Linked DNA regions of Homo sapiens. The protein of the gene in region 4 interacts with the protein of the main gene of each other region in a biochemical or structural test. Each region holds a gene or a part of one and is shown on either strand. Other genes may lie near its edges. The genes, in order: PLCG2, CSF1R, BCL3 and FYN.

What was found.
Region 1: the proteins of FYN (region 4) and PLCG2 form a complex in vitro, tested with the Homo sapiens proteins (one study listed by BioGRID).
Region 2: the proteins of FYN (region 4) and CSF1R form a complex in vitro, tested with the Homo sapiens proteins (one study listed by BioGRID).
Region 3: the proteins of FYN (region 4) and BCL3 form a complex in vitro, tested with the Homo sapiens proteins (one study listed by BioGRID).

The regions. Positions count from the first base shown.
Region 1 is NC_000016.10:81,936,287-81,943,323, reverse strand, and holds part of PLCG2 (1-phosphatidylinositol 4,5-bisphosphate phosphodiesterase gamma-2), read right to left. Parts: coding exon 6,946-7,037; intron 5,567-6,945; coding exon 5,421-5,566; intron 4,524-5,420; coding exon 4,409-4,523; intron 3,433-4,408; coding exon 3,265-3,432; intron 1-3,264. UniProt on the Homo sapiens protein: The production of the second messenger molecules diacylglycerol (DAG) and inositol 1,4,5-trisphosphate (IP3) is mediated by activated phosphatidylinositol-specific phospholipase C enzymes. It is a crucial enzyme in transmembrane signaling.
Region 2 is NC_000005.10:150,052,769-150,055,565, forward strand, and holds the end of CSF1R (macrophage colony-stimulating factor 1 receptor isoform a precursor), read right to left. Parts: intron 2,569-2,797; coding exon 2,469-2,568; intron 1,663-2,468; coding exon 1,554-1,662; intron 1,457-1,553; coding exon 1,301-1,456; 3' UTR 527-1,300; downstream 1-526. UniProt on the Homo sapiens protein: Tyrosine-protein kinase that acts as a cell-surface receptor for CSF1 and IL34 and plays an essential role in the regulation of survival, proliferation and differentiation of hematopoietic precursor cells, especially mononuclear phagocytes, such as macrophages and monocytes.
Region 3 is NC_000019.10:44,751,674-44,758,710, reverse strand, and holds part of BCL3 (B-cell lymphoma 3 protein), read right to left. Parts: intron 2,480-7,037; coding exon 2,371-2,479; intron 1,695-2,370; coding exon 1,490-1,694; intron 1,385-1,489; coding exon 1,296-1,384; intron 1,066-1,295; coding exon 988-1,065; intron 466-987; coding exon 298-465; coding exon of another isoform or gene 166-297; exon of another isoform or gene 1-165. UniProt on the Homo sapiens protein: Contributes to the regulation of transcriptional activation of NF-kappa-B target genes. In the cytoplasm, inhibits the nuclear translocation of the NF-kappa-B p50 subunit.
Region 4 is NC_000006.12:111,863,435-111,870,471, forward strand, and holds part of FYN (tyrosine-protein kinase Fyn), read right to left. Parts: intron 1-7,037. UniProt on the Homo sapiens protein: Non-receptor tyrosine-protein kinase that plays a role in many biological processes including regulation of cell growth and survival, cell adhesion, integrin-mediated signaling, cytoskeletal remodeling, cell motility, immune response and axon guidance.

The DNA.
Region 1 (7,037 bases), on a different chromosome or scaffold from region 4:
AGGATTGTAAATTTCCTGAGGCCTCCCCAGAAACAAAAGCCTGTACAGCCTGCAGAACTGTGAGCCAATCAAACCTCTTTTCTTTATAAATTACCCAGTCTCAGGTATGTCTTTATAGCAGTGTGAGAACGGACTAATACAGTCTAGCTGCTGATTGACTGTTAGAATGAACTGGAATGACTGTTTGCTCCATGGCATTCCGGGAGGCTATCAGGTAGCCCCTACACTCCAATAGCATGGTTCCAGGCTGGACAGTACTATCTGACACTAGGCGTGTGCCTCTTAAATCGGAGACATGAGCTCTGCCCTCATGACCAGCTGTCTCCAGCTCTATGTACCTTCTCTCGCTGCCCAAGTCCCATTTTTATGCACTGGGCAGCCCTCCTTGTATAAAAAAAAAAAAAATAATTGTTTTTCTTCTTCTTGTTTCTAGTCATTTCACTGGGGAAAGGGAAATACAGACACCTTTTAAAGTAAGATCAATGCATCTGGCTTTGAGCACCCAGTGAGAGGGCAGCCTGCAGAGGAGGAACACGGGGTTCGAAATTAATTAGACATTCCTGGGTTTGAATCTCAGCTCTGGTCCTACAGGTGTGTGACCTTGAGCAAGTTAAGTCATAGTCTCTCGGCCTCAAAGTGCTCAGAATTTTAAAACCAAAGATAAAACCCCTTTCACAGGATTACTGTGAGGATTAAAAGAGAAAGAGTTTAAGGTACCTAACACAATAAAGGCTGCTGCTTTCCTTCCTGCGCTCCAACTGGTTTAAAAGCTTCAGTGCATCTCTAATGACAATGGGTGAAGTTTATTTTTTCAGTATGGAAGACCCTCAATGCCTCCTGTTCATTCTATTTCATTCCTCCCATGAATATGGATGTGCCAGGCACTGCTAGGAGCTAGAAAGAAGTGAGGAAAGGTCCCTGCTGAGAGTATCTCACAGTCGGGGGAGGAGAAGGTCACATTTTTAATCTCCCTTGAGGTTTTGACCTTTGTTTTTTCCAAATCTCCAAGCTAAGTCATTGCATTCTGCAGATGAATTGACACACTTTGATGCCCATTAAGGTAACGAGGTTTTATCATCAACTCTGACATCTCTGCAAGGCACTGGGAGGGGTTATGAGGCTCAAGGCCCTCATCCTTCAAGAGGACGTCGGGGTAACCAAGGGGTTTCAGCACAGCTGCCCCTCTCTGCTGGATGAGTTCAGTAGAGGAACTGGCAGGCAGTTACCATAAAAAGAAATCTGTTACAGCGTCAAGGCTAGGAACGTAAAGGTGTACCAAAAGCTACACTTCCTGCACCAGAAGAATTGGTGTCATTCCTAAGCCTTATTAGACTAATCTAAAAGAAGCAAATTAAGGAATCACAGCCCTGATCAGTGCCGGGTTTAAAGTAGTTTATAGGCCAGGCACAGTGGTTCACTCCTTTAATCCCATCACTTTTTTTCAGACCAACATGGCAAAACCCCGTCTCTACTAAAAATACAAAAATTAGCCAGATGTGGTAGTGTACACCTGTAGTCCCAGCTACTGAGGAGGCTGAGGCAGAGGTTACAGTGAGCCGAGATCACCCACTGCACTCCAGCCTGAGCGACAGAGCAAGACTCCATCTCAAAAAAAAAAAAGGGGGAGTTTACAGTGTGGGTGAGTTAACCCAGAAGGGTTGCCAAATATCAGGCCTCTTACAAATGAATACTCATTATTATTGCTAGAGTAGCAATGTTCATGAAAATGAACATTTCTAGAGTACAAAAAAAAAAAAAAATCAGAAACTTTAAACATTTTCCCAAAGTCTTGTTTCATCTAGTAACTTGCTAAGGAATTCATTTCCTCAATGGTAAGATAGGCAGCCTTGACATAGTTTGGTTCTGTCAAAGTGCCATCCAAGCACCATCTGGGGAGCTGCCTAAAGATGCAGATTCCTTGGCCCCACCCTGGGCTGACTCATCACCCTGTGGTGGGTCCAGGAACCTGCACTTTCTTCTGAGTCTTGCTCTGTCACCCAGGCTGGAGTGCAGTGGTGCAACCTCAGCCTTCCAAGTAGCTGGGATTATGATTACAGGAGTGAGCCACCGTGCCCGGCCAGCACCTGGATTTTCTAGCATGCCTGCTGCTCAGAAACTGGGCTCCTGCCCAGTAGCAGAAATGGTCAGGTTTATGATATTATACAAAAAAAGGTGGAAGTTGAGGGAATGTCTGAAAACAAAAAAGATCCAATTCAGCTCTTCATTGAGCCCCACGTTTCCAAACAATATCAAAAGACTGTATTTTTTTATGTAAGTAACTAAAATGACAGTCATCTTTCTCTTGAAAAATGATCCTCAGAAAACAAGGGAACAGTGACCTCTTGAGGAATCCAGAAGAATCTATGATCTCATATCTCATGCACCATGCATCAGAAATACTAAAGGAAGAGGAAGAAGGAAAATTCAACATCCAGCAAGGGCCTATTTGTCAAATATTATACCTAAAATCCAGTGGGAAAGATCCAGTGGGAAAGTAAACTAGAGAAACTATATAGAAGCTAAGGAGAGCCAGTTTTTTTTGTTTTTGTAAATGACTGGCTCTAGAAGCAGCAGGGTCCCAAATCCCCTCACCTGGAAGTGTCTATCTCAGCTGTGTAGGAAGGGCTCAGTCATCTGGGATTCAGCAGGGTTCTTAAGAGCTGGTCGTATGACCCAGCTTGGCTTGGTTGCAGAAAAATACAAAATGACCCTTCTTATACCATGAAGGGATCTTGTGTTTTCTTCAGCAGGGAAGAAAACTGTAACAACTCAAAGAAGTAAATTAACCCACCCAATTTTATAGAAGAAGAAGGTGAATTCTGAAGGGTTTGGGGAGTTGGACCCTCGAGATTGTTACTCCCCCCCCAAGATGCCAAAGGTCTCTCCCTTGCCACCCTCTCACACTGCCAGCCAGAGAGCAGGAGGGGGAGATCAAACCAGACTTAGCCCTAGCTAGGGAGAAGCAAACCGCATGTAATATTTCAAAATGAAATCAAACTGCAGTGCCAGGTTGAGGATCCACTAACAATCCAGTTTTGCTTGTAAACATCCCACTTTGAGGGGCATAGCCTCCCCTGTCACCCACTTCCTCCCACCTGTGTGCTACACGACAGGCTGTACACCTGCTCTCCAAGCCACCCAATCGGTTTTACAGTGATTCCATCCAAACCAGGAAAAATCATTTTTCATTCTTTTTGAAGCCAGCAGCCAAACCAAAGTACAACGCCAGCCCAAATCGAACATCTTAATTAAAATGCCTCTTACCTGATTTGACTGCTTTAATGGGGTAAGTGGCATGAGCAAGAAAGTTGGGATCGCTGAACATATCTTCTTCATAAACCACAAAGCGCAGAAATGCCAGGTTTGGGTCATAAATTTCAAATGTCACCTTCTCCTGTGTTGGAGCCCAGATAGGGCTGAGGCCATTATCATCTGGAAGGAGATCAAAGCTCATGAGAGGCCACATTGGAGCTGCCCCCTTCTGGTAAGACAATCTCCGCATCCTTCAGCTGTGAATCCCCTTAGCAACCATGTAAATAAATATGCATCTATGCCAAGATCTAAGAAAATCTGAATAATTATCTTCACTCCCCCACCCCACCTTGAGCAATCCTGGAAGCTGCTGTTGCAGGCTGGTCCCTTGGTGAGCAGAGGAAGGAGACCACCTCCCATCTCCCCGCCCCAGGATCAGGGACAAGGGAACGGGGGAGGTGTTTGTTTGCAGAGCAGGAAGGTGGATTTTGGAAAAGACAAAAGGGGAGGAGAGCCTGGGAGCCACATCCACCAGCAGGGGGTTCTACAGCTGGCAGGGGAGAGCCCAGCCTCACAGAGCAGGCAAGCAGCAATCCTGCCACTCTCCATAAATGCCAGTTTATTTGGTCAGCATCTGAGTTGTTCATTGGGCTACTTTTTACCAGGGGCAAGGATCCTGTGCTTTAGAAGGCCCACCAATCACGGTTCCCTCCTGGCTTTTCCTGGAAGAGCAAGCATTCCTCTTGTCCCTCCTGCCCTCTAGGGGCTAAGATCTCCCAGGTTAGGCTGATCCTCTGGGTCAGGTCAGCCACGTAGGTTCACCCCCTCTCTCTGTGTCTCTGCCTCTTGGCCTTTGACTCAGGAGATTAATCAGATTGGGCTGTTGCACAGAGAGGACCAACCTAGTGTCAGGGCCTCACCTACGATTCCGGACTTGAGTTACAGGCAGGCAAACAGCACTGGGGAAAGTCTAAGGATTTCAGAAAGTGGCCCTTTGTATGTATCCCCTCCTCAAGCTGAACCATGTGGGCAAGAGGGAGGAAAGAAAACCCTGGGACAACTAAAGAGCATTGCAAAATCCCCCACGAAGAGCACTCCCACAAAGGATTCACTGGCCGGACGTTTAAAAGCAGAGGGGCCAAGGTGACTGACTTACTCACAACCGTCGTCTTGAACTTGTTGTTGTCATACTCGGCTCCACAGATCTCCACTTCTACAAAGGGACAGGCAATACTTCGTCCAAGTTTGGGGAGATGGCGAGCACCGAGAACCTGGGACACCAAAGGGAAGCATTGGAACCCCCCTGGGGTCCTGAACAGGCAGCCTAGCGTGGATTGCAGCTGGGTTCTAGAGTGACACTGGATGAGTTCAATGCCAGCCCTAATTTTCCTAGATTCACTGGAAAAGCCGGAGCAACCTTCTGCAGTGGATGAAGGTGGACTGTGGTAGATCCCACAGTTCCTCAGCATCAGCCTGGGTCTCGGCCCCATATGCCACCTGACTCAACAGGTAAAACTCACCTGAGCTCATGAATGCACACATCCATGCCCAAGCAGGTGCCTCTGATCAAGGCAGAGCTTAATCACTGGATTTCCACACCCCTAGGAAAGGCTGAGGAACAGTGTGGCATTCTTTTTATAACTGCTGTTTATTTAAAGGCCTGTGTTTACGTATGCTTCTTCCCCCTACCACCCGCCCGCCCTTAACCTTAGGAGAAATGCAATTCATTTCTCTACTTTTCAAAAATTCTTACAAAGCAACAACACTTTCTCTGAAAGTCAGATGAATTTTAAAAAGCCCTGGAATTGGACAAAGTAAGGGAAAAAACTTCTCCATTAAGACCAAATGGCTGTTTCCCATGTTTTCTTTCTCTTTCCGGCCAGAGGCTGACCTCACCAGGACCCCAGAAAGATAGGGTCATACCTCACCCCCACAGAGGACAAGGGGAAGTGGGTTTGAGGAGGTTTCCCCTCTCTTCCCTCTTCTCCCAGAACGACCCCGGAGTGTACTGTAAGAAAGAAAGATCCTCAAACACTGCCTGAATGGGGATCGTTTAAACAAGACAACCAGCCTCCCTAGACATGGGTTCCCTGCTCTCAAGACAGCATCGGCCCAGCCCCCAGGGAGGGCGGCTGGCTCCCCTGGCAGGAAGGGAGGGCTGGCTTTACCTTGACTGTCAGCGTCATCAGGATCTTCCTCTGGGACTCGGGTGGCATCGGGTCATATTTCTCTGTCCTCATGCTCTCAGGCTGCAGAACGTAGCCCGTGCGCCCATTGAGAGAAAACAATGCGTGATTCATCTGCATGTACTTATCTGGGAAGGAAAGTGAACGCCTGCTGTAAGTCAGGCATGAGCACGCTGGCCCCCTAGGCCAGGAGTTTCTAGGTGGGGAATGAATTTCACCTTTTCCCCAAATTAATGTGAGGCAGCTGTTCAAATAGGTATCTCACTCAAAGAAAATATAGGGTTTCTAGACAGCAAACTCCCAGACTGGGGAACACCTTTCCAAGTATGTCACCAAATCCCGAATCATAAAAGAAAAGATTCAAACTTGCTAAAAGTGTCTATGTAGCAATAAATTGCATAGGCAATTTTAATTCAAATGACAAATATGTGAATATAAATTTTTAACCTCTTAGTTCTGATACATCTATGCTATAAATACCTACTGCAGTAGATACATCAGGTAAGAAGCACAAATAGTTCCCAGAAAAGAAAATGCCACTGCTCCCTAAATGAGGGAAAAACTGGTTAATGTCCCTTACAAGAAGAAGCTCTAATGGACGACGATGTATCAGTTTTCACCTCTCAGTTGTGCAAACGGCAAAAAGTTCAACAAAACTCAGCGAAGTCATACCAAAAGAGCGTACTCCAACCTCCACCTATTTGCATCCCCGCCCACGATCTCTATGGAGGGCAGTTTGGCAGTGTGGCTTAGCTCAGGCACGTCTTCAGTGGTTTTCCTCAGGGCAAAGTTGATCAAAATGCAAGCGCTGTTTGACCCACCCTGCCTTTCTGAGAATTCTGTCCCATAGACATATTCCTACATCTGTGGAATGGCGCTCACGTCAGGGTACAGAAGGCAGTGCTGTCTATGACAGCAAATAATGGGGAATACCTACATGTGCCTCCACGGGGACTTATTAAATAAATGATTGTTCCATTCTGTGGAATCCGATGTGGCTATAAAAAGAATGTAAAGGAGGCTACTGATGAATAGATCCCTCGAAAGAGGTCTTAAATAACAACAACAAAAGCACAAAGCCCCGTGATTTATGCGATCACTTTGTGTCCAGAAGTTTGTGTATGTTAGTTATGCCAGCATGTAAATGTCTCTGGAAGAAAGTCTGAGCAGAAAGCCCTCACACAGCAACAGGCCTGGAGAAGAGAACTCCAAAGATGCTTTAATTACATGAACTAATGCATTTTCTTTTTCTAAGCCAGACTAACTCAGCCTCTGTCACTTACTTACAATCACGAAGCCTGCGTAAGCCAAGCAGCCTTCGGTCCTCTCATCCCTCCATTCAGCTGCTGGACCTCATACTAACCATTACTCTGCTGAACCGTGCAGTCCCTCGGACAAATCACTCATTCTTGGACACCACATGGTATCGCTGACCCAAGGTGACTCGGCCTGGAGTGACTGCAACCGCCACCTTGCAGGGACGGGACTACCTTCAGTCGGCCTTTACCTGCCGTCTGGAAATTGAGTGCCACCATCTGAGAACCGCACAGCCAGAGGCGGAAGGGGTCGTAGTTTGAAGAGTCAACTCTTTGTCCCTTT
Region 2 (2,797 bases), on a different chromosome or scaffold from region 4:
GGAGGAACAGTCAGCCACAGCTCTCTTCCAGCACTGTCCTCTCCACCCCAAGCTTTGAGGAAGAGCATCCCCTTCCTCCTTTCCCTGGCCACTGCTGCTGCAGCCAATATCCTCTCTGGGCCTGGGACCCTCTCCACAGAGGGGATGTGGTCCCTGGTCATGACATAACCTAGCAGCAGTAGGAAAAACTCCCTTCTATGAAGGGGAAGCAGACTGGGCCATAAGGAAACAGCAGGACTGGCTCAAGTGCCCAAGGTTTGTTTAGGGCCTGGGAATTGGCCATGTGTTAATTTATTGAGTGGAGTAGGTGGCTTTTTTTCCCTCCCTCTTCCCCCAACAAGAATAAAGTTTATTAAATTATCTGGTTTTGGTGTAGCAGGAGTCAATTCCGTGCACATCGTATGGGGCACAGTGTGGTCAAGCTCCACAGCTGTGAGCTCGTCACTTCATGTGAAGGAGGGAAGGAAAGAAAGACGTTCCAGGGAATTTGCAGGTACTCATGTGGCACAAAGAACCAGAGGCTGACTGCATTAATGCTGTTAGTTTAATGTGGACAGAGACATCCCACGGCGTGACTGTTAGTTAGGATGAGTCAGCTTGGGGGAGTTTGTGCTTCCTGCTTGGTGTGGCCAGCCACATGCCAAGGTCCCCTGCCTTCTAGCCCAGAATGACGGGACTGGGCAGAACACCCCCAACTTTTAGCTGCCACTTGGCTCATTACAGCAGTACCAGTATGGGGGTGGGAGGGGTGAGGCTGTGGAGTGAAGGCGGCGTATAGGGCAGAGACTAAGAGGTCCTGTGAGATTCTTAGAGGAGCCATCCTGCTCCAAGGGGCCTGAGCTGAGTGTGGTCTGTGAGCATCTGCTGCTCCTCTCAGAGAGGGAGATCTCACTCTCTGCCAGTCTGTCTAGCCCCAAAGAGCCTGGTTTTCTCAGTATCAGTGTAGCTCCTGGGGACTTCATAGGCATAAAGTCAGTCCATTTCCATGAAGATAAGGGGATTAGGAAAGAAGGTTCTACTAGTTGGCATAGCAAACACGAGGCCAACACCATGAGAACAGTAGGGGAGGGGGGGGTGAGGGCTCAGCCCCCAGCCCCTGACTGGCAGTGATGGCCCATGCTCAGGAAGTGGGATCCTCTGACCTCCCCTGAATCCCTCACCTTCCCAAGTTTCAGAGCTGGGCCGAGCTGTTGAGTGAAATGACCGAAGGCAGAGTTTGTATGTTCTCCCCGTGTCGCCCCATCCATGGAGGAGTTGAAGTTTGTGGGAGGGGAGAGTGGTACTCCCTGTCGTCAACTCCTCAGCAGAACTGATAGTTGTTGGGCTGCAGCAAGGGCTGGGCGATATCCCCTTGCTCGCAGCAGGTCAGGTGCTCACTAGAGCTCTCCTCCTCCAGCTCACTGCTGCTGCTGCCGCTGCCACCGCTTCTGCTGCTGCTCGGCAGATTGGTATAGTCCTGAGGGTGGGAGGGACCAGAAACTGTCAGTCCAGATCCATCAGGCCCAGCCCAACGTGCTTTACCGGCCACCCACCCCAAGCCTCACCCCACTCACCCGCTCTCTCCTGTCCTCTTGGGCCTGCTCCTGAAGGAAGGAGCAGATCTGCTGGAAGGTGGGTCTGTGGGTGGGCTCCAAGGCCCAGCAGGCCTGCATGATGCTGTATCTGGGAGATAGGACAGAGGATGCCCATGGGCAGCTCCCTAGGGTCCAGGGGCCATTAACACACACCCCTAGAGAGACCTACCCAGCAGAGGTCCCCAAACCCAGTCAAAGTAAGTTTAGTATAAAACCTATGCCAAGTCCTTGGCATGCTTTACCATTTAATCCTCACAGTAACCCTTGCAGAAGGGTACTCTCATCACCCTCATTCTGACAGATGAGGCCATTTTGGTATCCTCAGGGTAACTGTAATAACGATCTCTTAAAAGTCTGTTTAGGGACAGGTGCAGTGGCTCATTCCTGTAATCCCAACACTTTGGGAGGTTGATGCAGGAGGATTGCATAAGGCCAGGAGTTCCAGACCAGCCTGGACAACATAGTGAGATCCCATCTCTACTAAAAAATTTTTTAAAAATAGCTGGGCTTGGTGGTGCACACCTGTAGTCCCAGCTGTTTGGGAGGCTGAGGCCAAAGGATTGCTTGAGCCCTGAAGATTGAGGCTGCAGTGAGCTATGATTGCACACATCACTGCGCTCCAGCCCGGGCTACAGAGCAAGATGCTGTCTCAAAAAAAAAAAAAAAAAAAAAGGAAAAGTGGTCGGTTAGGACCAGCCCTAGTGAACAGCTGCTTCTCTGAGAACATCCCCCATAGCTTGAACTCAAAAGGGGCTTGTTGTGTCCACTATGGGAGAGATAAAGTCTGACCCTGGAACATTTTGGACAGGGAAAGATCAGGGCCACACGGCCTTCCATCCCTTTCCAGCGAAAGCCTGGGGTGTCCTTTTCCCTCCCTGGGATCCCTTCGCTTACATATTCTTTGGGGCAAATGCAGGCTGGGCCATTTGGTATCCATCCTTCACCAGTTTATAGAACTTGCTGTTCACCAGGATGCCAGGGTAGGGATTCAGCCCTGCAAAGGCCAAGATCAGGTAAGAGGCCATGCCCATTGTCTTCTCCCCATTCCCGCACACCCACACACATCTTAGACTGGGTTTAAAGGGTCCCACTTGACAACACTGCAACAGCAGCTACTCTTACCCGGTGCTTCCTGTGTGCCAGCCAGTGTGTGGCAGGCTTAGGCTTTAGGAAGGTGTGAGCCTCTATCCAGGCCTTATCACACCAAACATTCTTGCACAGGC
Region 3 (7,037 bases), on a different chromosome or scaffold from region 4:
GGCGTGACCATAGAGCCACCCATGCCTCACAGTCCTCTCTCCCATCCCTCCTAGCTCACTGGATCCAGGTGGTGGCCTCTCCACTTCTCAGTATGAAAAGATGGGCAAGGCACTTTTTTTCTTGGTGCCAGTCTCTCCTCATTTCTGGAACTCACACCCGCGCTTTCAGAGGCTCACCCACTCCCCTCCACGCAACGGCACAGACACCCTCACTCCTCTGCGCTCTGGCACACTCGCCTGCAACCAGCCCGCGGACACACGTGTGCAAGGGGCATGTCCACAGCTGCCCCGGCTCACCCTGCGGCTGCGCGCCACCATGAGCGGCGTGTCGTTGTGGCAGTTCTTGAGGCTGCTGTCAGCGCCGCTGCGGACCAGCGTGCGCACCAGCGGGAGGAGCCCGCGGCCGGACGCTGAGTGCAGGGCGGAGCTGCCGGAGTACATTTGCGCGTTCACGTTGGCGCCGTGCTGCGGGACGGGAGGGCCGGGTCAGGAGGGCGCGCGGGCCACCCGGGGTAAGGGAACAGAGGCTGGAGGCCCGGGTGGGTGGCCGGCACGTGGGGCGGCACCGGATCGGGGTGGGGTCACAGGAAGGTAGGAGCGAGAGCCAAGGGCAGGCCAAGCGGGACTGCGTTGGCGGCGATGAATTAACCGGAGCTGGACACCGAGGCCCGCGCCCCAAGGAGTCGGGGGAGCTGGAGGGGGGAAGGACAATGCGTGGACAGGGCCTAGCTGGAAGGCGGGGTCAGCCAGGCCATCGCAGGGCGGGGCCTAGGCCGTTGAGGTGGCAGAGGAGGAATGGGACAAGTTCGTAGCCAGGGGCGTGGAGCCCGAGGGTCGAGAAAACTAGGCCTTAAAGGATCAGAGCTGGACGCGGAGCAGGAGCCGGAGCCAGAAGTGGAAGGCGGGGTCAGAGCTAGGGGCTGAGGCCAGAGCCGGGTTGGGGTCAGAGGATAGGGTGGGCGCGAGGCTCAGGGGGGCTGTACGCACCTGCAGCAGCAGCTGCACCATGCTAAGGCTGTTGTTTTCCACGGCGTGGATGAGCGGGGAGCGGCCGCTCTTAATGTCCTGCGGCGGGGAGGGAAGGTCTTAGTTTCTCCAAGCTCTGCTCCAGCAGCCGGCGACCCGCATCCCGTCCACATCCCATTCGCGGGGTCCAGCCTCTCTCTTGGGTCTGATACTCCAAGCCCCACCCCACCCGGGTGCTCTCCCACGCCAGCCCCACACTGGCCCCGCCCCCGCCAAGACCCCGCCCCTGCTAAGGCCCCGCTCCCTCCCAGCTCCTAGTGCACGCTCACCACTGCGTCGATGTCGGCACCGCGCTCTAGCAAGAGCTGCACGGTTTCTTGGCACTCGGTGTTCACTGCCACGTGCAGGGCGGTGAGCCCTGAGGGAGAGGAGGGCTCGGTGAAACCTAGGCCCGGGCTTTGCGGCCGCTGATGGACTCCAGGTCCGCTGGACAGCCCAGCGGTGCCCCGCGGTAAATGCTTACCGTCATAATTGCGGGCCTCCAGGTCCAACGTGCCCGGAGCTGCGCTGTCCAGCAGGGCTCGCAGGCAGGTCGGGCTGCGGTGCTCGCACGCCAGGTGAGCGGCCGTCTGGCCATGGCGGTCCAGCGCCATGGGGCTGGCACCAGCTGTCACCAGGAGCCGGACCACAGACGGTAATGTGGTGATCACAGCCAGGTGGAGCGGTGTCTGGGGAACAGTGACTGTGAGGGACCTGTGTCCAGCCCTGCTCTCTAGTCCTGCCTCCCCCAGGTTTTCTGAACCCTTATTCCTCATCCTGCAGTCTTCCCCAGGAACAGAAACCTGAGACACCTCCTGTCTCAGATTCAAGAGTCCGGGCCCCATGCTCCTCCTTCCCCAGGACCCAGAAGACTGGGCCTCCAACCTCCTCTTTCCCTAGTACCTGAATTCTGGGTCCCCAGCCCCCTCCCTCCTCACTAGGAGGTCTTTAGGCCCCCTCCCTCTCAGGAACAACCAGTCCGAGGCCCCAGAGCCCTTCTTCCCCAGGAACCAGGAGCCTGGAGCACCTCGCTACTTAGAGTCCAGACCCCAGCCCTCCTCCCTCAGACCCAGGAGTCCAGACCCCCAGCCCTCCTCCCTCAGACCCAGGAGTCCAGATCCCCAGCCCTCCTCCCTCAGACTCAGGAGCCCAGGACCCAGCCCTCCTCCATCAGACCCCGGATCCCAGGCCCGCAGCCCTCCTCCATCAGACCCAGGAGTCCAGGCACCAGTCCCTCCTCCCTCAGACCCAGGGGTCCAGGCCCCAGCCCCCCTCCCTCAGACCCAGGAGTTCAGGCCCCCAGCCCCTCCTCTGTCAGACCCAGGAGTCCAGGCCCCAGCCCTCCTCCCTCAGACCGAGCCTCACCTGCCGTAGGTTGTTGTAGATGTCGAGCTCCCGGCCCCCCTGCTGGAAGAGGTTGACCAGCCGGTGCACAGCTGGCAGGTTACCCTGCACCACAGCAATATGGAGAGGCCTGGGGGTGGGGGAGTGAAGGAATCACAGGCATTAGGGGTTGTTCACCTCTCACCCTCATGCTGTTGGCAATGCTAACTCCAATGTGTTGAATACTTTGGAAATGTCCCCAGTATTCAAACACTTCTCCCCACCCACTCCCTCCATCCTGATTTACCACCCGCTCCCTCCATCCTGCTTTAGCCACCACTGGCTCCCTGCTGGTCTAGTACAGTTCCATCCTCATGGCTTCTCTGCTTCCACCTATGCTCTACTGTCTGTCCCCCACACAACAGCCAGAGGGACCCTTTTATTTTATTTTATTTTATTTGTTTGAGACGGAGTGTTGTTCTATCGCCCAGGCTGGAGTGCAGTGGTGCTATCTTGTGCTCACTGCAATCTCTGCCTCCCAGGTTCAAGCGATCATCCAACCTCAGCCTCCTGAGTAGCTGGGATTACAGATGTGTGCCATCGCGCCCAGCTAACTTTTGTATTTTTAGTAGAGACATGGTTTCACCATGTTGGCCAGGCTGGTCTCTAACTGCTGGGTTCAAGTGATCCTCCTGCCTCAGCCTCAGCCTCCCAAAGTGCTGGGATTACAGGCGTGAGCCACCACGCCCAGTCTGGAACAAAAGTTTTGACTAAAAGGGAGGTGAGGACAAACTGGGATGGGGCCATTGTTCTGGAGGCGGTACAGTCCAGAACCCCCTTCTAGACTGAAGGACTCACTCCCTCAGCTTCTGGGAAGATTGTCAGCTTTCAGACCATTTGGGAATTACCCTCAACTCAAGAGAGCTGCTTGTCCAAGGTCACGCCCCATGTGAATCAAGGGCAGCTGCCCTTCAATGGCATCCAGTCACTGGTTAATGCCAGCATAGAAGGCCTAGCCTCCTGACCCCAATGCTGAAGGCCATTCCAGCTTCAATATTCCCTGTGGGACAGCTGAGGCCGTGTGGAGGCGACACAGCAGCTCAACTTCTCCCTCTGCCCAGATGGGCTTCCTTCATCCCACAGGTGTTGATGGAGAGCATTTCCAATAAACTTCCTGCTCAGTTTCCAGAGACCCCAACCTAGAACAGCTATTCAGAGACTGGTGTGTGTGCATGCGTGCGTGCTTGTGCACGCCTGTGCTGTTTGCATGGGGTGGGGGACAGAGTGGAGGACCCAAGGAGGACTGCGTGTACACAGTGGGTGGCAGGATCTTTATTTAAAGTTTACTAAGTAATTCCTTTCTCACCAGCACCCGTTTCTCTTGTGGAATGTGTCTCTAGAATCCAGTTTAAACTAGCCTCCCAGGTGGTTCTGATGGAGTGCAGAAATCCCGGGGCCAGAGTTGCAAATTGGGCCACAACCCCTCCTAGCGTAGCCGCGTGCTAGGGCAAAGCCATGGGGGCCTTTCGGAGCCTCAGTTTTCTCTTATGTAAAGTACAGCGTCCACATGCCAGGGTGAGATCACGCAGGTGAATCGCTGAACCTGACTCCTAATCCGTGAAAGCCAAATTTAAAAATAAAATGTTGAGGGAGGGGCCGGGGTCCCTGGGAAGGGTCCCCCCTTCTCTGCATCTCCCAGGACGCCTGGCCTGGGTCCCTCTCGGGGCGGCCAGGGTTAAGTGAGGGCAGACGCAGCGAATGATTTCAGAGAAACCGTCCAGGCCTGAGTTCCCATAAACGCGCGGGCCGCAGGGGGTGGGGCGGGGCTGGAGGAAGTGGGGACGGGAGGGGCGACCCAGCCCTCGGACTTCCAGTAACAGGTCTGCTGGGCGGGGCTCTGCTTCCTGCTCCCGGGGGAGGGAAGCCTGTCCCGCCGGGGATCTACCCTGGCCACCCCTGGCACCCCAACTTCCATCCTCGAATGGGGCGGGGGAAGGGAGTGCCCAGCCCAAGAAGACCTAGCTCCCTTGAGGTGTGTGTGTGTAGGGGGGGCGCATAATCCCGAGTCCTCCCGCCTGGGGGACCCTCTGGAACTCCACCCCGCAGAGCTCAGGCTCCAGCTGGCTGCAAGTCCTCCTTATCCCGGCATCCACCCCCAACATCTCTTGGGAGCCAGAAATAGCCCTAACTCTTCTTTAAGAATAAGGACTTCCCCCGTCCTTCAGAGCTCCAGGATCCCAAACTACCTTGCCAGTCCTTGTCCCCTCAGAGACCCAGAAATACAGCGCCTCAAACCCTGGCCCTTTGGGAACACAGACTTTCAGGCCCCTTGGCGTGACCAGTTTCACCAGCCCAACGTCCTGCTGCCGCTGTCGTGAAATTCTTAAGTTTTGAACAAGGGACTCTGCAAATTTCTGTATCTGGTCCTGCCCGTAAAGCCCCTCTGAGTGCCAGGTCCCCAAGCTGCCAAGCTGCTCCTCATCCCCTCGGAGATTAAGGAATACAGTTCCCCAACTTCTGCCTTCTGAGAATCAGAACATCACCCCCCCCCCCCGCCCCCGCCTTCCTGCCCCCTCCCCAGGTTTCTGGCTGCCCAGTCCCTAACCTCTTGGGGGTCCAAATGCCCCAAGGCTCGTACCCGCCTGTGAGGAGATGGAAGCCCAGCCTCCCAACCTTTTGGCTTCTGCGGGGACCCAGACTTAGCGTCCCCCGCCCTCCTCGCCCCCACTGCCCTCCCCCGCGGGTGTGAAGAGGAGCCGGTGGCGCAGGCTGGGGCCGGGCCGCTGCCCGTTCCGGTAAAGTCTCAGCCCCAGCGGAAGGGGTTAAGGTTGGAGGAAGCGCCAGGAGGGGGGAGGCTGCGAGTGAGTGACGGGTGCTGACGTGGGGGAGGCAGAGCAGCTGGGTTGCGGTCAAGTTCTGCGGGAAGGGATTTCCCCCAGCAGGCAGCTGAGGCAGAAGTGTTTGCCTTGGGGGAGAGTCGGAGAGGGAGGGTGTGGGGAGGGCCTGGGGCTGGAGACTGGTGGGCCGGGTGGCCTCTGGCAAGCACCCTGCTTTTCAACAGCATGGACAGCTCACCACTGGGGGCAGAGACTGTCTGATTAAGCCCATTTCATAGATGACCCCCCAGAGGTACCCAGAAGGGGAGGGAACTAGGTTTTATTAGCTCTTTATAATCTAGGCCACTTTCTCCTGCTAGGGCTCTGGAGATGGCCTGCAACCACCCTGGGAGCTCTGCTCAAACATTACCCATTTCCATGCATTGAGCACTTACTGTTTGCCCAGCCCTGTTCTGTGCACTGTATTAATACATGTGTACAAGATCTCACTGAATCCTAATTGTGATAGGTGCTATTATGAGACCCAGTTTCCAAATAGGGAAACTGAGACTCAGGGACATGAAATCACTCAGTGGGCCAGTGGCGGAGCAGCCCTCTGCTACTTCTCTGCAGAAACAGGCCTGTTCATCTCTACCTGTGGTTTCCAGGCCCCAAACTAATTCTCACAGAAGTGCTTTGTATAAATCATGTCATTTCTTCCTCCCAGAGACCCTCACACGCGATGGTTCCTGTTTTTACAGAGAGGGAAACTGAGGCACAGAGGGAGTAGAACGTGGCCACGCTGAGATTCCAACCCAGGTCAATAGAATAATAAGAATCATGATGATCAATTGCAGTGAGTGCTTACTATGTGCTAGGCACAGACCAAACCCTCCCGTGCAGGACTTCTCAGCAGCCTCACAAACATGTTCTTCAGACTGCAGGTGATAAACCATGGGGGTTGTGAAATCAATTTAGGGGATCTTCAAATTAATGTAGTGGGCTGTGACCATGAAACAATGAAGTCGACTAGAATAGAAAATGGCAAAGTAAAGCTGTAAGCTGGGCTCGGTGGCTCACATCTGTAATCTCAGCACTTTGGGAGGCTGAGGTGGGAGGATCACTTAAGCCCAGGAGTTTGAGACCAGTCTGGGCAACATAGCAAGACTGCTGTGTTTCTACAAAAAAAAAATACAAAAATTAGCCAGGTGTGGGGGTAGCGTCTGTGGTCCCAGCTACTCAGGAGGCTGAGGTGGGAGGATCATTTGAGCCCAAGAGATCAAGGCTGCAGTGAGCTATGATTGCACCACTGCACTCCAGCCTGGGTGACAGATCGAGACCCTGTCTCAGAAAAAAAAAAAAGAAAAAGAAAAAAAGAAAAAAAGAAAATGTCACAGTAGAACCCACATAGTAAGGGCGAGTATTGTTTCATTTTGTGCAATTTTAATTTCAAGTTTGTGTGTGTGTGTGTGTGTGTGTGTGTGTGTGCTGGGTTTGAGATAAAATAATAGTAATATTAACAAACACTTACTCAACATTTATGCCAGGTCCAGTGATAGTTTTACATGTATAATTCATATAGTAAGTTAATCAATGAACTGTCTTTCTTGTTTTTAGGTTGTGACAAAATATCTAAAGACCACCGTTCCAAAAATAGTGTTCTAGGGGTGGGCTTGGGGCTCATGCCTGTAATCCCAGCACTTTGGGAGGCCAAGGCGAGTGGATCACTTGAGGTCAGGAGTTTGAGACCAACCTGGCCAACATGGTGAAACCCTGTCTCTACCAAAAAATACAAAAATTAGCCAGGCTTGGCAGTGGGCACCTGTAGTCTCAGCTACTCGGGAGGCTGTGGCATGAGACTCACTTGAACTTGGGGGGCAGAGGTTGCAGTGA
Region 4 (7,037 bases):
TGAAGTTGTTGGTGTTTATTTGCCTTTTCAGTAGAATTTAAATTGGGCAGGATTTCACAGAAATACAGATTCAGTAACTTTCTGGGGATTAAAAGAAGAAAGGATTGGGAAAAGTGCCCTGGGCTTTGTTGTGGGAAAGGAGATCTGGCTCATTTTTAATTTTCCATTAAAGCCCTACTTTTCAATATAAAGCAGATGGAATCCTTATACAACTCCATGAAAAGCCTACTATTTTTGGATACCTCAAAGATGGAAGCTCTGAAGAAAATGAAAGTGTTTGACTTCATCAGATAAAATCCCACCAGCATATTCAAAAGGCACAGGTACTTAGAAACCTTTAAATTACAAGTTAAGAGGTCTTTCTGTGCGGATTTATGATCCCGGGCCCCTCTCAAGCTTCGGCACTCTCTGACTCTTGCTGACTGATGGTTTCTACCACTTCTCCGCCTGCTCCCACTACTCTAGTTGGGACTCCCTATGTTTGCTTCCTTCCTTGTCTTCCAGAGCTGCCTGCTGACTCTTCCCTTCTCACTGTTGTTCCCAGATACAGAAAAGATGAGAAGCGTTCAGCCCTGCCTGGCCCATACCCACTGAATCCAAATGAGGCCTGGGGATATGCATTCTATGAGATCTTCAGCATATTTGTGCTCTTTTCTTATTATGCGATAAGACCTGGTTCAATATATTCTGTTTGTCACTCTGCTGGGGTGGACAGGAGAACAAAAGGGCTGATGTTTACTGTGCAGAGTCTGTGAGATACTAGGCTGGGAGCTGCTGGGCACCACCTCCACCCTCACAGTTTACAATCTCATTAAAGAGATGGCGCAAATTTAGTGTGAAGAACATAGATGTTGGAGCCAGACTGCTGTGTTCAGATCCCAGCTCTGTCACTTACTCTGTGACGCTGACTAAATCACTTAGCCTCTGTGACTCAGTTTTTCCATCTTTTAAATGGGATAATAATGGTAGTACCTCCTAGAATTGTGCTGGGTGTTATGTTGACAAATCAATCATAAAATAGAGTCCCTGACTTCCAAAGAGCTCACAAGTCGGTGGGAAAGGCCAGTGCCTGCCCCACTGTCCTACCCAGCTGGTTCCCTCAGCCTTACGAATCAGGCTATGATGAGGATGATGATGAGGTGGTAATCAGGTGCTCTGGGAGCCCAGAGGTAAGAGAGATGGGAGGGCTTCTCAAGAGGCAGTAGGTTTTGAGGGGAGTCATCAGAAAGGGTGAGACTTCCACGGTGGGTAAAGGTGCCTCTGCATCCTGCAACACAGGACACAGAAGTAACTGCAAAGCAAAGGCAAGGAGGCAGGGAATGAGGAACCACAGCTCTGGAGCAAAAGCAGGAAAGAGTTTAGCAGTCACACAGACCTGGCTTCACTAGTTATTAGCTGTGTGACCATGAGCCATTTGCCTCTCTGAGCTTCAGTCTCCCCATTTGACTAATGGGTATAATAATACATGCCTCCTAGAGTTGCTATGATTAAGTACATGACTGTATGTAAGCACCTAACACATGCCTCCGAGTTCAATAAAATGGCAGGTGCTATTATTTCTATGGTGTATTCAGGGAGGAGTAGGTAGCTGTGGTATGCTCTCTACTTTTTTGCAGTATCACAGAAAGGAGAATACAAGGCCAGAAACAAGTAGTCCTCTAAAAAAGCTTTCTGAGTGCAAATAAGCAATGAGCTAGGACTTTCCCATGGTACTTTTTTCTCCCCCAAACTCTTACAGTTAATAGGTACTCAATACATATTTGCCTAAACCAACCAAGTGCTGCTCGAGGTCATGGGTTTACAAGGGCAGAGTATGTGATGATCTCTGCTTCCTAAGTATACCCAAGAAGGAGACCCAAGTCAGGCTTCACTTCCAGACGGAGGTGCACAGCAGGCTGTTCTGGAAGCAGGCTGAGACAAATGGGAAAGCGCTCTCAACCAAATATTACAACAACTCGGAGTCTTACAAACATTGTTAAAGTTTCATGAGTCAGTAAGCATTATCTTTTCCTCCCACGTTTTTATTAGACCATAAATCCAATTCAATTTATATTCTTCCAGGATTACTGCGTTCTAATCAAGTCCACAGTGTCACTTATTCCTAAGTTGTCTATATTGCATGTCACCCAAGTCCATTTGGATAATACCATTCAGGCTTCTCATGTGTTTTAGTAGCTAAAAATTAGATTTGCTCAACTAGAAACACTAAAAAAATTATTATAGTCCTCTAAATAACACAAATCACTCTTTTTTCATAGGAGCCAAATGTGTGAAAGTCATAACCCATAGTTTTTTCTTACTTTATAGTTCATTCTACCTTTAGAAAAGTCACAATGACATTCTGAAGTCAAACTCGAGGGATTTCCATTGTAAATAGGTTAAAATTCTGGTTATCTGACTAAAAGAAACCCTTTTACAGGGTTAACGTCAGAATGCTTTCATGTTTTCCGTTCTCAAGAATGAAGGTGCTGCATTTCTTACTAAAAATGCTGTTTTCAATCATACCATGTAAGTAAATTTCCCAACTTTTCTAACAATTTTTGATTCAGAACCGACAATCACCCAAATCTCTTTCTAAAATATTCAAAGTTTCCTTACATACACACAATATATTGTCATCATCCCTTCCCTAAAGCATGTATGTCATATGTGTATATATACACATACACACATACATATGGATTAACAACAGCAGCAAACACATAGCTTTTCCTATGTGTAGGACACTGTTCTGAATATTTGACATGTATTAACTCACTGAATCCTCACAGCAACCCTCTGAGGCAGGAACTACTATCTCCATTTAAAGATGAAGAAAAGGAGTCACAGAGAGACCAGGTAACTTGGCCCAGCCCACACAGCTGGAAAGGGTCAAACCCGGACCCTACCCCAACCTCATGCTTTTGTTTTGTTTTCTTTTGTTTTGAGACAGAGCCTCACTCTCTCGCCCAGGATGGAATGCAGTGGCACAATCTCAGCTCACTGCAACCTCTGCCTCCCAGGCTCAAGCGATTCGCCTGCCTCAGGCTCCCAAGTAGCTGGGATTACAGGCCTGTGCCACCACACCGGGCTAATTTTTGTATTTTTAGTAGAGACAAGGTTTCGCCGTGTTGGCCAGGCTGGTCTTGAACTCCTGACCTCAGGTGATCCACCTGCCTTGGCTTCCCAAAGTGCTGGGATTACAGGCGTGAGCCCCCGTGCCCGGCCCCAACCCCATGCTCTTAACCACACCACACACCTGGGCTGAGAGGTGTGAAACCTGGTGACTTTGCCATCTTGGACAAGTTGCTTAACCTCTTCATTTAACTTCATTTTTCCTCACGAGTAAAATGAACATGTTGACTACATGATCTCTAAGATTCCATGGCCTGTGCCCATGAAAAACCGCAAGAGTCCTTCATGGTTGTATGTTCTACAGGCTTTGATATGTGTTTTTACCCTGGCTGGGGAGCAACAGATTTCTAGACTTCTCCCCCTCTAGTTCTCCTGATGCTGCTTTGGGCAGGTTCAGATATCTTCAGTGCTAAATCCAACTGCATTTTTTGTTCTTTATGTTGCTCAACTCTGAAGCTGGTCTAGTACTCCGCAGGCTCCTCTCCCATTCTGGGCCTGACTCCTCCTCTGTTCCTGGGCTTGCTCTCTGCCCTTTCTGCTCTTTCTACTCCACACATTCTCCCTGGGTGACCTCACCCACATCCATGGCTTCAATTTTTGTAATTTGTTTGCTAACGAATTTATATTCAAGACCTAGTCCTGGCTGGGAGCAGTGGCTCATGCCTATTATCTCAGCACTTTGGGAAGCTGAGGTAGGTAGATCCCCTGCAATCAGAAGTTCGAGACCAGCCTGGCCAACGTGGCGAAACCCCAATAATTAGCCGGGTGTGGCGTTGGGTGCCTGTAATCCCAGCTACTCGGGAGGCTGAGGCAGGAGAATCGCTTGAACCTGGGAGGTGGAGGTTGCAGTGAGCTGAGATCACGCCATTGCACTCTAGCCTGGGCAACAAGAGCGAAACTCCGTCTCGGGAAAAAAAAAAAAAAAAAAAAAAAAGACCTAGTCCTCTTCCCTCACTCCAGACCTCTCTATTTACCTGCCTATGAGCTACTACACCTGGAAGTCTAAAGTGTTTAAGATAAAGTCATCGCTTAGATACCTGCCCCCTGCTTTCCTTATTGGACTGCTTGTCTCTACCTAATTTCCCAGAGAAATTCTTTTCTACCTACCCCTACACCCTGTCTACTGCTCTCTAATTCTTTTTTGCTCCATCTGCACCTCCTTTCCTTCCATTTAGACCCTCATCTACTACTCATTTAAGTTTCCATAACTACCTTCCCTGCATTAGTTCTGCCTGCCCTCGGTCAAAGGCCCATACTGTGGCCAGATCTTTATAAAAATACAATCACATCAAAGCCACATCTCCACTTACAACTCTTAAATGGCACTCAGGATAAAGTACGTACAAGAATCTTTCTCAGTTTCTCCTTCAGCTCTGTCATTTCCCTTTGTCCATCTCTGTACCACTCCAAACAGCCCTGAACTAACTGCAGTTCCCCAAAAGGTCTGTGCATTCGCCCTCTGGGCTGTTCTTTCTGGGACAGGGAGCTTCCCACAACACTCACCTAGCCATCTCTACTCATCTTGCCTTCAGACCCCTCCTCTTCCAGCCTTCTCTGCTTGGCTATCCCACTTGCCCACCTCTTTTCCAGGTTCATGCTCCATTCTGCACACTCTCTGCCATCCTACATGGACCCCTAAAATCCCAGCATTTCTAACATTGGTCAGAGACTCCTTTATAGCTCTGCAAAACTAGCAAGTAAGTTCCTTCGGGACAGGATCACATCTCTTTTGCCTTGAACCATCGAATTAATTGTCTGGCAAATAGAATACGCAATGAATGAATGCTGTTAAATGAGTAAGTATGTAGACAATTCATAAACTTATACAGACCTAATTGTGTACCACAGAAAGACCCAGCTTTAAATAATCACACAGAGTAAAATTATTTCCAGTATCGACATGCCTTGCTTTACCATTGTTTAATTTAATTTTGTATTTCCCAGGTAAGTAGTAGATAAGTGTCTGAATGGAAGGAGGGTAGGGATGAATATTGTATTTCTATTTGGCTATAAAATTATATTTCTCATCAACCAAAAGTCTTAGTTTCTAAAGCATTTCAGTCACCCTCCCTTATGGCACATAACGTATTTTAATATCATCATTATATGTAGTATTTTGAATATTACCTAGTGGCTAAGGGCAAAGGCTTTGGAACCAAACTAATTGGACCTGAATCCTGACTCTACCACTTAGTAGCTGTATGATCTTGAATTAGTTACTTAACAAGCTACTAAAGTTTGCTTCAATTTCCCATCTGTAAAACGGAGATTATAAGTGAAACCACTTCATATTATTATTGTTAAGATCGGAGCTTAAACAGTGCTTGGCATATAGTAAATGCTCAACAAATGTTAACAATTATTAATTATTTTTATCTCTTCTAGTAGACCGTGAACTTCTGAAAAGCAAGGACAGCAGAAGTATTCATTTCCAGGACCTCATCTCCCCAGTGCCTTGCACAAAGTAACATACTAGGCTAATGTCTGCAGAACAGATGAATATAATGAAGTATTCATGGCAAAAAAAAGTGCATTAACAATTATGATGGCTGGTATGAATGGAATTGCTCCAACAATTTGGAAGCCTGTGGAGAACAGGGACTACCCAGAACACTAGAACCCTGCTCATGGAGATTTGGAAGCTCACTTAACCTCCGTGGAATATGCAAGACTCACAGACAAAGAGGGCAGCTGAGTGACAGAGGAGACCCATGTGGGCCTGAAGAGCTGGCTGGCTGAGCCTCCTGCCCTTCCGTTAAGAAGCTGCAAGGCCTTGGGGCAAGGAGTTTCACCTCTCAGGCTAATTAATTTCCTCTTCCAATTAAGAGGGAGTGGGACTGTGATTTCTGTTTTTCTTTTTGAGATAGGGTCTCACTCTGGAGCCCAGGCTAGAGTACAGTGGTATGACCTCAGCTCACTGCAGTCTCTACCTCCCAGGCTCAAGTGATCCTCCCACCTCAGCCTCTTGAGTAGCTGGGACCACAGATGCATGCTACCATGCCTGGATAGTTTTTAAAAGATTTTTCGTGGAGACGAGGTCTCACTATGTTGCCCAGGCTGATAACAAACTCTTGGGCTAAAGTGATCCACCCACCTCAGCCTCCCAAAGTGCTGGGATTACAGGCGTGAGCTGCAACATCCAGAAGGAGTGTGATTTCTAAGGACTCTCCTAGCAACTTTGGGAGTCTACAGAATGACCAGATGAAAAATGAAGCCAAGAAAGGTGCTTTTGGAGTAAAAGAACCACATCAAAGTCAACACAGGAAGCATCAGATGATTGTATCACATGGGATTATTGAGTAGGAATTGGCAACATTTGAAACATAAAATTTGAAACATGACAAAAAGTAAGATTTTTGAAACATGCTTAGGATGAAAAGATCTAAACTTATAAAATCAAAAGAAAAGCAATGACGGGTGTCCGCTCTAGGTTTCTATTTAATTCCCATTAGCCTATAAGTTTCTTGAGGGCAGTGAATGTGCCTTGATAAGTGGCAGTGTTTGACAAAGCTGTTCAATAAAAATACATTTATTCTGTATCTTTTTTCTGAGCACATGGCTAAACTACATTTCCCAGGCTCCCTTGCAATTAAATGTGGCCATATAACTAGCCCTCAAGTAAAGAATGTGAGAGGAAGTGATGGTGGCACTTCCAGGCTAAGGTATTTTAAAAGTGGGTGTGCCCCGTCTACTCTCTGTTGCCCCTTCTGTAAACTGAAACAGGTTACGATGATAAGCTATGGGATGGTGGAGCTACAAGATAGGGGTGTGGGACCCAGAGTCACTGCATGGAGGAAAGCCACCTACCGACCAGAAACATGAATTTTTGACTATTAAATGAGCAAGAATAAACGTCTATTGCTTTTGAGCCATTATATATTTGCAGGCCTATTTGTTACACCTGCTAACATTAGCCTAATTGA